3 separate regions of the Homo sapiens genome follow, and all the other regions are linked to region 2. The links come from fine-mapping of genetic effects on gene expression. A gene starts in region 2. Each other region holds a variant in brackets. All regions are shown on one strand. Distances are between the middles of the regions. Region 1 overlaps SV2B (synaptic vesicle glycoprotein 2B). Region 2 holds the start of SV2B (synaptic vesicle glycoprotein 2B). Region 3 has its middle 50 kb from the start of CRAT37.

What was found.
Region 1: its variant is fine-mapped to the expression of SV2B in pancreas (GTEx, PIP above 0.99).
Region 3: its variant is fine-mapped to the expression of SV2B in T cells (TOPMed, PIP 0.91).

Annotation. Positions count from the first base shown.
Region 1 is chr15:91,150,604-91,153,363 of GRCh38, reverse strand. The region is part of intron 1 of SV2B (synaptic vesicle glycoprotein 2B); the gene reads right to left. Among named protein-coding and RNA genes, the nearest start is that of SV2B, 52 kb to the right of the region's middle. The variant C/T (reference allele first, on the strand shown) is at 1,232.
Region 2 is chr15:91,098,914-91,101,673 of GRCh38, reverse strand. It overlaps SV2B (synaptic vesicle glycoprotein 2B), which reads right to left and starts at 1,417. Exons shown (of 13, transcript NM_001323032.3): 1 at 1,311-1,417. RefSeq lists a silencer at 1,191-1,590 and an enhancer at 1,640-2,181.
Region 3 is chr15:91,512,098-91,514,857 of GRCh38, reverse strand. No RefSeq gene overlaps it. Among named protein-coding and RNA genes, the nearest start is that of CRAT37, 50 kb to the right of the region's middle. The variant T/C (reference allele first, on the strand shown) is at 1,570.

The sequences.
Region 1 (2,760 bases), 52 kb before region 2:
AGTTTCCCAAGGGTGGGACACACAGTGACGCTGGCACCAGAGATGATGTGACGTGGTCCAATAGTGAATCCTGCTGCTATGGTTCGAATGTATTTGTCCCCCCAAAAGTCATACGTTGGAACTTAACCCCTAAGATGATAGTATTAAGAGGTGGAGGTGAAGTAAGTAAGTCACGAGGGCTCCACCTTGTGAATGGGATTAATGCTCTTCTAAAAGAGGCTTCAGAGAGCTGCCTGATCCCTCCATCTCCCCTGCCATATAAGGACAGAGCATTCATCCCTTTAGCCCTTCTGCATGTCAGGGCAGAGTTCACCATTTCCATCACATGAGAACCCAGCACCATCTTGGAAGGCACCAACTAGGAGGCAGAGATTCCCCCTCCAGACACGAATCTGCTGACACCATGATCATGGACTCCTCAGCCTCCAGAACTGTGAGAAATAGATTTCTATTGTTTGTAAATTGCCCGGTCTCAGGTATTTTGTTATGGCAGTACAAAATGGACTAAGATACATGGTATGAGTCTCCTCTTTTAACTCTTTTATCTATCTAATCATGGAGAAAGTCTTAGTTGGTGCTGTGGGATGAAAGGAAGCTCAGAAAGAAAACCTCTTTCCTTTCTGTTTCCTTTCTGACCTTTGCTAATATCTTCCTCACCCCACATTCCCTTTTTTAAAGGTAACACAAGCCAAACTTACACAATTTGACAAGCAATAGATGATAAAAAGAAGTGATACCAGGTATCATTTAATTTCTTTCCTATGGTTACTTTGAATATATGAAAGCAATACTGTTTTTCCTGTTATGGCAGTGATTAAAAGCTTTACTTTGTAATGCATCTATTTAAGGACAAGATGTAAATTCACTTCTTAAAAATTAAGTAAATAATAATACATGTTCCCTCATATGGAAAAAGATCAGGAAAGTGAAGCCCAAGAGACTCAAAGGTGGGAACAGTGCCCTGTGTTATGCCACCTCTCAAGGCTGGGAAATCCCAGCTGCGATATCAGCAAAGCTGGCAGCTCCCACCCAGCTCCTCCAAACACCATTAACCATGTGTGTTCATAGAGAATAGCTGTGAGTTCTCACAAGTTTTACAAAAATCTATTCACAAGTTCTGGAAAAAACAAAGAACATTGACTCATTCTCTCGCAAAGAGCCTCAACGATTTTTTTAAAGAGTAAAAACTGGGCAACCCGCTTGGGTCCCCTTCCACACTGTGGAAGCTTTG[C/T]TCTTTTGCTCTTTGCAATAAATCTTGCTGCTGCTCACTCTTTGGCAAAAAAAAAAAAAAAGAGTAAAAATTAACTCAGATTGACAAAATAAACATTTGTCCTGACATTCATCAGGCTGGGATAACAGACATAGATAAAGCTACTTGCAAAGTATACCAGGAAATGATATTTCTACCAAGGACACACCACACATAATAACCTTCTTTGAGTAACTACTGTTTTCTTGCATCCTGAAAAGCCTTGATATCTAAAATCAGTGACTATCAGAAACTTCACTGTTGGAAATTGTATGAGTAGGAATGAACCATCTCACTCTTGCCTGGAAGACCTAAGTCACTTTGACACAGAGAAGCAGCTTTGATTTCCAGCCCAGATACAAAGCTTCATATAAGGGGTTTCTGACGAAAACACTCACATTTACCTTAACCTTGTCATTTCCAAGGAAATGGGAGCCTGGGTTCAATTTACAGTCCAGACCCCTCTATACCCAGCACTGCTTTGCTTTTAAGCTTTATTTTCATTTTACCTAAATTTTAGCCTTCTTGAAAACTGTAGAATAATTCTATCTTTCCCTGTGTTTGGTGAGATGTCCAATGGCCCTTCAGGCATGCAGCCTCCATCATGAAAATGGATCAATAAATCTGACTTTCTTGGGCTGTAGATTGGTCCTTAGTGGTCTCAGGCTGATTAGGCTAAAGTGGTTTATATTTAACTTTTGTTATTCAGGCTTTTGGAGGTACTCTTTATCTTTCAAAATAAACAAGCAAATAAATCACAACAGGCTCCCTGGGGATATTATGACCAAATTATAAAGCTGCAGTTTAACTTTTCTATGGAAGCCACCTGGTAATTTGACTCAATTTTTCTGTGTAACCATTAATGACATGGTTTTTCTCTTCAGATGGTTGTGCTTTTGTTTTGTTTCAATGGGGAGTTTTGGCCCTGATCAGTTTTGTGAATAGACACACAGGCTTGAATGTGCACACATGTGCTTAACTGTTAGTCTTCCATCTCAGCACAGGGCAGAGCTCCACGCTCATGGTGAGGCAGCTCCATGGTCAAAGCCCACAGGCTCTCACCTAAATCATCTTGACTGAGGATCATCTGGATGAAAAGGAACCCATGCCCCCTCCCAGGCTACACGCGTAAGGGGGTTTCTTTCATCATAATCATATGAGTCTCCTAGGCAAGGGGAGGAAAGTCTAGCCCAGGAGCAGAGGGGTGGGGGTGCAGAATTCAAAACTCCTTCCCCATGGAGCCATCTGTTCTCTTGTCTCTGCTTCCTCACAAGCATCTGCCTGCTCTCTGCTCACTACAAGCTCCTCTGCACCCATATCTAAGGCTCAGACATGATTTTGTGGCATGATTTGCCACAGTATGACTATTTCAGTCTCTCAGAGCCTCAGAACTAAATTCCCAGGACAGAAAATATGATGGAATTCGTTTCCTTACAATTTGTGCCCACCCATCTGCTTATGGAAGCAGACACTGGGGCAGAAATATGGACAGCTGGTCCTCCTCCCAGCAG
Region 2 (2,760 bases):
TGCTGAAATCCACGCCATGCCTAATCCATGAGGGCTTCATTTTTATACTAATCACTGCCACTATCAATTTCCTCCTCCTCTCTGCTCTCACTGCTCTTTTCCAACACCATCATGAACTTATCCACCTCCTGATTACGAGTGCTTCTCCCCCTACCAGGTGTGAACCTCAGGGAGCCAGGACATTGTTATCATCATCTCTGCATCCCCAAGGACTAATCCCATCTCTGACAAATACTAAGTGCTCAGTAAGTATTTGCTGACTCAAGAAAGATGCAGAACGAGCCTGTACCTACTGCACCAACTGGAACAAGCAGAACAAGTCACCTCTTCTGGAAAGGGCAGGAAGCAGAAACACAGAGGAGACCAGCATAGACCAGAACCACCGCTGAGCCGACTACAGTGCCCAGTCCTCCCTCATGCACCCTCCTTACCCCTCACCTGCCACTCTCTGAGCCCCAAAGCCACCCACATTCACCTCCCCAAGGGCTAGAAAGCCAGCAAGCATTCCCCCAGCGTCCCACCCCACCCCACTGGGGCTGCTCTTATCAGAGCCCAAGACACCAACGTTAAGTTACCCTTAAACGGAGTAATTTGCATCTGTAATTTCCGGATAAAGGAGTGTATTTCATCAGCCCTGCTGAACCCTGGACAGCAGAGATTTCTACCACCCGTCTGCCGAAGACACAGCGGTGCCTTGCTCCTCCCTGGCTAAACGCATTTGCTAGCCCATCCCTGCAAAACAAGTCATTTTCTTTCCCTTGCGCTAAAACCCGTCCATAAACAAATCCTTCTGTGTCCCTAAGAAACGGCTCCCACGCCCACGGAGGGCGCCCTGCACATACAGAAATACACACTCACAAACCCCAAGAGCCACCAGGTGTAAGCACGTTTGAATTCTGTTCTTTAAGAACAAGCCAACAACAATAACAAAATCTATCTACTAGAATGTAACTGAAACTAAAAGCAGCGGCTAGGAAGCTTATGGAAACGGAGCTATAAATGCCAGCAGCCTGACATTTATAAGTTGCAAAACTACTTATGGCGCTAATAGTTCAAACAGGGTTTTAAAACAGCCCTTGGGGAGGCCGCTTTCAAAGAAGCGCACAGCTCCAGGCAGCGGGCAAGTCCTTGCTTTTCTGCGCCGGTTTTTCAAGACTCTCCGATCTTTTGTGCCATTTACTATGAACAGCACTCAGCTGTGCGAGCGTGTATATTTCAGCCCAGGCAGGCGAGTCTGGGAGCCCTGGCGCACGCGGGGTCCGCGCCCCGGCTGGGTCGGTTGCACCGCAGCGAGCAACGCAGTCCCCTACCTGGGTGGCAAATCCGCTGGCGGCCGCCTCCGGATGCAGGCAGAGCAGCGTCCGCCCCGGCAGCCCCGCGTGCAGCTCCGGCTAACGCGGAGCTGGGCGATCCGGGCGGAGGCAGGCGCCGGCGGGTGTCACACCTGCATCACCGCGCCCACGCCGCCCCCGCCAGCCGCCCAGGCGCAGCGCGCAGCGCGCCCCCGCGCTACAGAGCACGCGGGGCGGGAGGCTCCTGGGTCCTCTACTCAGCGGGATCAGATCCTAACCCGCTTTCTTCCCGGCCCGGGCATTAAAAGTATTCGCTGCGGGCAGCTCTGCTTCTAAATCTCCTTCTGATCGAAGGCTGGGTGTGGAGATAGCTCAGAGGGAAGGAGGACCAGTGAGGCCGCAAGGTCTCCGGATTTGCAGACCAATAAATATTAAACTTCTTATTCCTCGAGTTTTGTAACCAGCTGATCATGGGCGTCGTCTCGCTGTCTCCACCCCGCCTAGGGCGAGGGGGCGCTGTGGACTCCACATGCCCTTCCACCCACTCCGAACTAGGATGCGTCAGAGGACTAGACGCAAGTTCCCGGGAAGGGGAATCCTCTGATCACGCCGCCCCCAAAGTATCGTCGATCATGGTGCTGTTCGACTGCTTTGTTCTCGTTTGCCTCATCAGGAACTGAAGAGAACCTACCCGGCCAGCGCGGGGAGGAGGAAAGCCTGCAAGGCTTGGTGCATTCAAACAAGCCCTCCACCTCTGTCTCCCTCCTTCCAAACCACCACCCACTAACTCCACTGACGAGAGTTCAGCAAACTAAACTGCCAAGGCTCAGCACCGAAAGACTCTTTAGGAGCATAGGGCTCCTTCTAGGAGCAAGTAAGGAGCAAGGAAAGGACACTGGAAATTCGGATGCGGACTCAAACAGCACAACACTGCAGGTGCCTGGCCCCTCTAGGATCCGAAGCTACGTTCCTTTCCTAACAGGGCTAAAATGAAGGCCAGTTCTGGAAGAGCCTTCCCCCTCTTCTCCATGGAGCACATCCTCCATCATGAGGTCTTCAGCTGGACTCCCCACTCTCGCTGCCGTCAATGACCTGCGCTCCAGCTCCCTGCCTCTTCCCTGGCTGGGGCCTCCGCCGACTCGCACCTGGACCACCCGCAAGGACTTCAACTTCTCAGGCTCCTGGAGTCATTTCTCAACATGTAAATCTGATCTTGACTCTTTCCTACCTAAAACCATGTGATGGCTTCCCAGTGTCCTTGAAAAATCCGAAACATTTTTTTTTTTTTTTTTTTGAGACAGGGTCTGGCTCTGTTGCCCAAGCTGTGGTGCAGTGGCTGGATCACAGCCTCAACCTCCGCAGCTCAAGCAATCCTCCTGCCTCAGCCTCTCAAGTAGCTGGGACTACAGGCATGCGCCACCACTCCTGGCCAATTGTTAAACGTTTTGTAGAGTAGAAGTCTCACTCT
Region 3 (2,760 bases), 410 kb before region 2:
CTGCTGGGACCCTGACTGCTAGAGGTCGTTTATCTATATTCTCCTTTCTCCTTCCACCCACATGCCTGCAAAACAATGACTCCAATGATCCTAAATGATTCCCTTCTCCCTTCTTTCTTTTGGAGCACATAGCAAGGAATCTTTTTATTCAGTTTAATTTCTTGTAAGAGAAAGGAGGTACTACTCTATCTTATGCTTTTTGCCCAACAAAATCCTACAGGCAGGGAATTATAAGGGCCTTGCTCTCTACTTAGACGAAGTGGGGAGGGAAGGAAGAATCAATACAAATAAATACCTTAAAAATATATCCTGTTATAAGCTTCCCTGGCTGACAATCTGCCTGCTTCCAACCTGGACATGAATGTTCTGCCCCCACTCAGCGGCCTCATCCACAGCCCATTTGGCAGTAAAAACCGAATCAAAGGAGGGCAGATGCATTTCATTGCTATGTCAGCCCTAATTGATTGGCTCCTGATACATGGTATTGGGAACAATTCTGAGGCCTCATCCCAGCTCAGCAGGAAAGAGTACTGTAATCAATTAGGGATGCCTATCCTGGGAGGTGACCAGAGGTACAGCAGCCAGAGCTATGTGTTTATTATTCCCCATCTAATCTCTCCCTCCATCTCAGCAGCAACCCCTTTCTTGGCTAGTTAACCCTCAGGTGTTCAAGAGGCCATTTCTCTCATAGGGAGAGGTCAAACTGGGTGCTAGGGCAAGAGCTGTAGCTTTCAAATTATAATACCCTTTTCTATGTTAAGAGTGGTTGTTCCGTACAGGTTTCTGCTAATACTGGCTGAATAGACATTGATGGATGATGATTCTGTATCATCTCACAGTCCTGCTATGTCTTCAGAGCTTTCTTCCTTTAGCCTTTTTAAAAATAAATATGCCACCAAAGTTTATGCTAACAGAAGGGTTTCAATATTAAATAATGACTCATTGAAGAATGAAATGGAGATATTTTTTACCCTCCTTTCAGCAATTGTTCTGCATATCTTTCCCCAGGTCCTCAAAGTCAGATTCAAGGACATCTCCATGTTTTGTTGTGTCTACCTCTAGTTCTGGCCCTATTCTTGAAATAAAGAAGGAGCCCACAGCCTCTGCCTGCCAATCACTGAAACTCAGCATTGGCAATCTGGCATATCTTGTTTAACACTGAGCTGCTACGTCGGTTTCTCAACAGACTCACGGCCCTGTGTTTTGGTTGCTGTGATGATGAGCCTTGATTCTTGGGACTGGGTTTCTGCTTCATTCCTTCCACCATCGCTGAGAATGAGGCTTTGAGCTCCTTGCAGGAAGGAGCCTTCCTACTCCTTAAAAATCCTCTCAAGTGATGACTCTCCACTGCAAATCCCCTTCTCCGCAATCTCCTCACCTCCAGCGGGCTCTGCCATATCATTTTTGTAGCCCTCCCCACCCATGGATGGCTGTTAGATGTGCCTTAGCTTTCATTCTTACCTATATTGCTGCCTCTTCTTAGGGTCAGTTCCACTGACCTATGTCTAAATCTGGGTGGGTAAGTCCCATAATTGGCACACACTCTATTCTCCGCCTCTACCTCCACAT[T/C]GCTGTTGTGGAGTCGTGAAGATGTGCACAACCTGAAACTTCAGAGCAGGATTTGCCTTTAGATGCCAGACAGCTCACATAAATGAGCACCACTGATCAGGTGGGAACTGTGTAAACCAGAGAACAGATGTCCACTGAAAGAGAGGCATACACAGCTCAACCTTTGCCACTGGAAGCCAAAAATCCAGATTATGTGGAGCCTCTCAAATCATTAATACTGTCAACTAATTCACAGGTTTCTTAACAATGTTCTAATCCACATGGCATTGGTTTGTGAGTTCTACTCTATAGCGAAAAGGTGAAAGGTAATTTTCTAGTAATAACAACTAATGTTCATCTTCCTACATTCCAGCTTACCAATTCTTTCAAATGACTTGAGCAGTTTGCACATAGTGGAGAGCTCATCAAGAATTTCTCTATATATGAAGGAGAACATATTTGGAAAAAAAGTTTTTCTTGGCTGGATAGCATTAAACATTAATTCAAAATAAAACTATTTCAAGCCACATTTATTCCCTAAGAAATGAGATGAAAAGAAACCAAATGAATCAGCCAGATGATTCCAGCTCTTTAATCACCAGCATCACTATTGCTAATTGAATCTTCAATGCATATTGGCTTCACTCCCTGAGGTGCACTAAAACAAATATTTAACACTTGTCTCCTTAAGATGAAATACTTCACACGGATGAAATATTTCACGTTTGAAATTAAAAGTACCCATAAAATTGCAGCAAAGGCAGACTATGGCATCTAAATAGAGGACTGCAACCTTGTAGTGGAGAAAATAACATTATTCATTGGATCATTGAGGATCAGAACCAGAAGCGTTCTTATGACTACCGGTTTCCCAATGAAATTTACAAAGCCTAGCTGTCAGTGTTCTTAACCAACATAATGAAGGTAATACCTACGCATTACCTTGAACCTATCTCTTGCTGCTTTTATTATGGAATCAGATTTTTGATGCTGATTGGGTTGTAACGGTCAACTGTTTTGACCAGATGTCAAAATAACCAGATGTTCCCGTTAATTGGTTGGCAATTGACCTGAATTTTTTGATGTAGTTGATTCATTGTTGCATTTTGATTTGGTTTCCAAGGTAGAGAGTTGACAGTGAGTGAAATATTCAGCATTTGTGAAAAGTGTCCCTGGGCCCTTTCCAGCTATAGAGTCTTAAATTTCATCTTT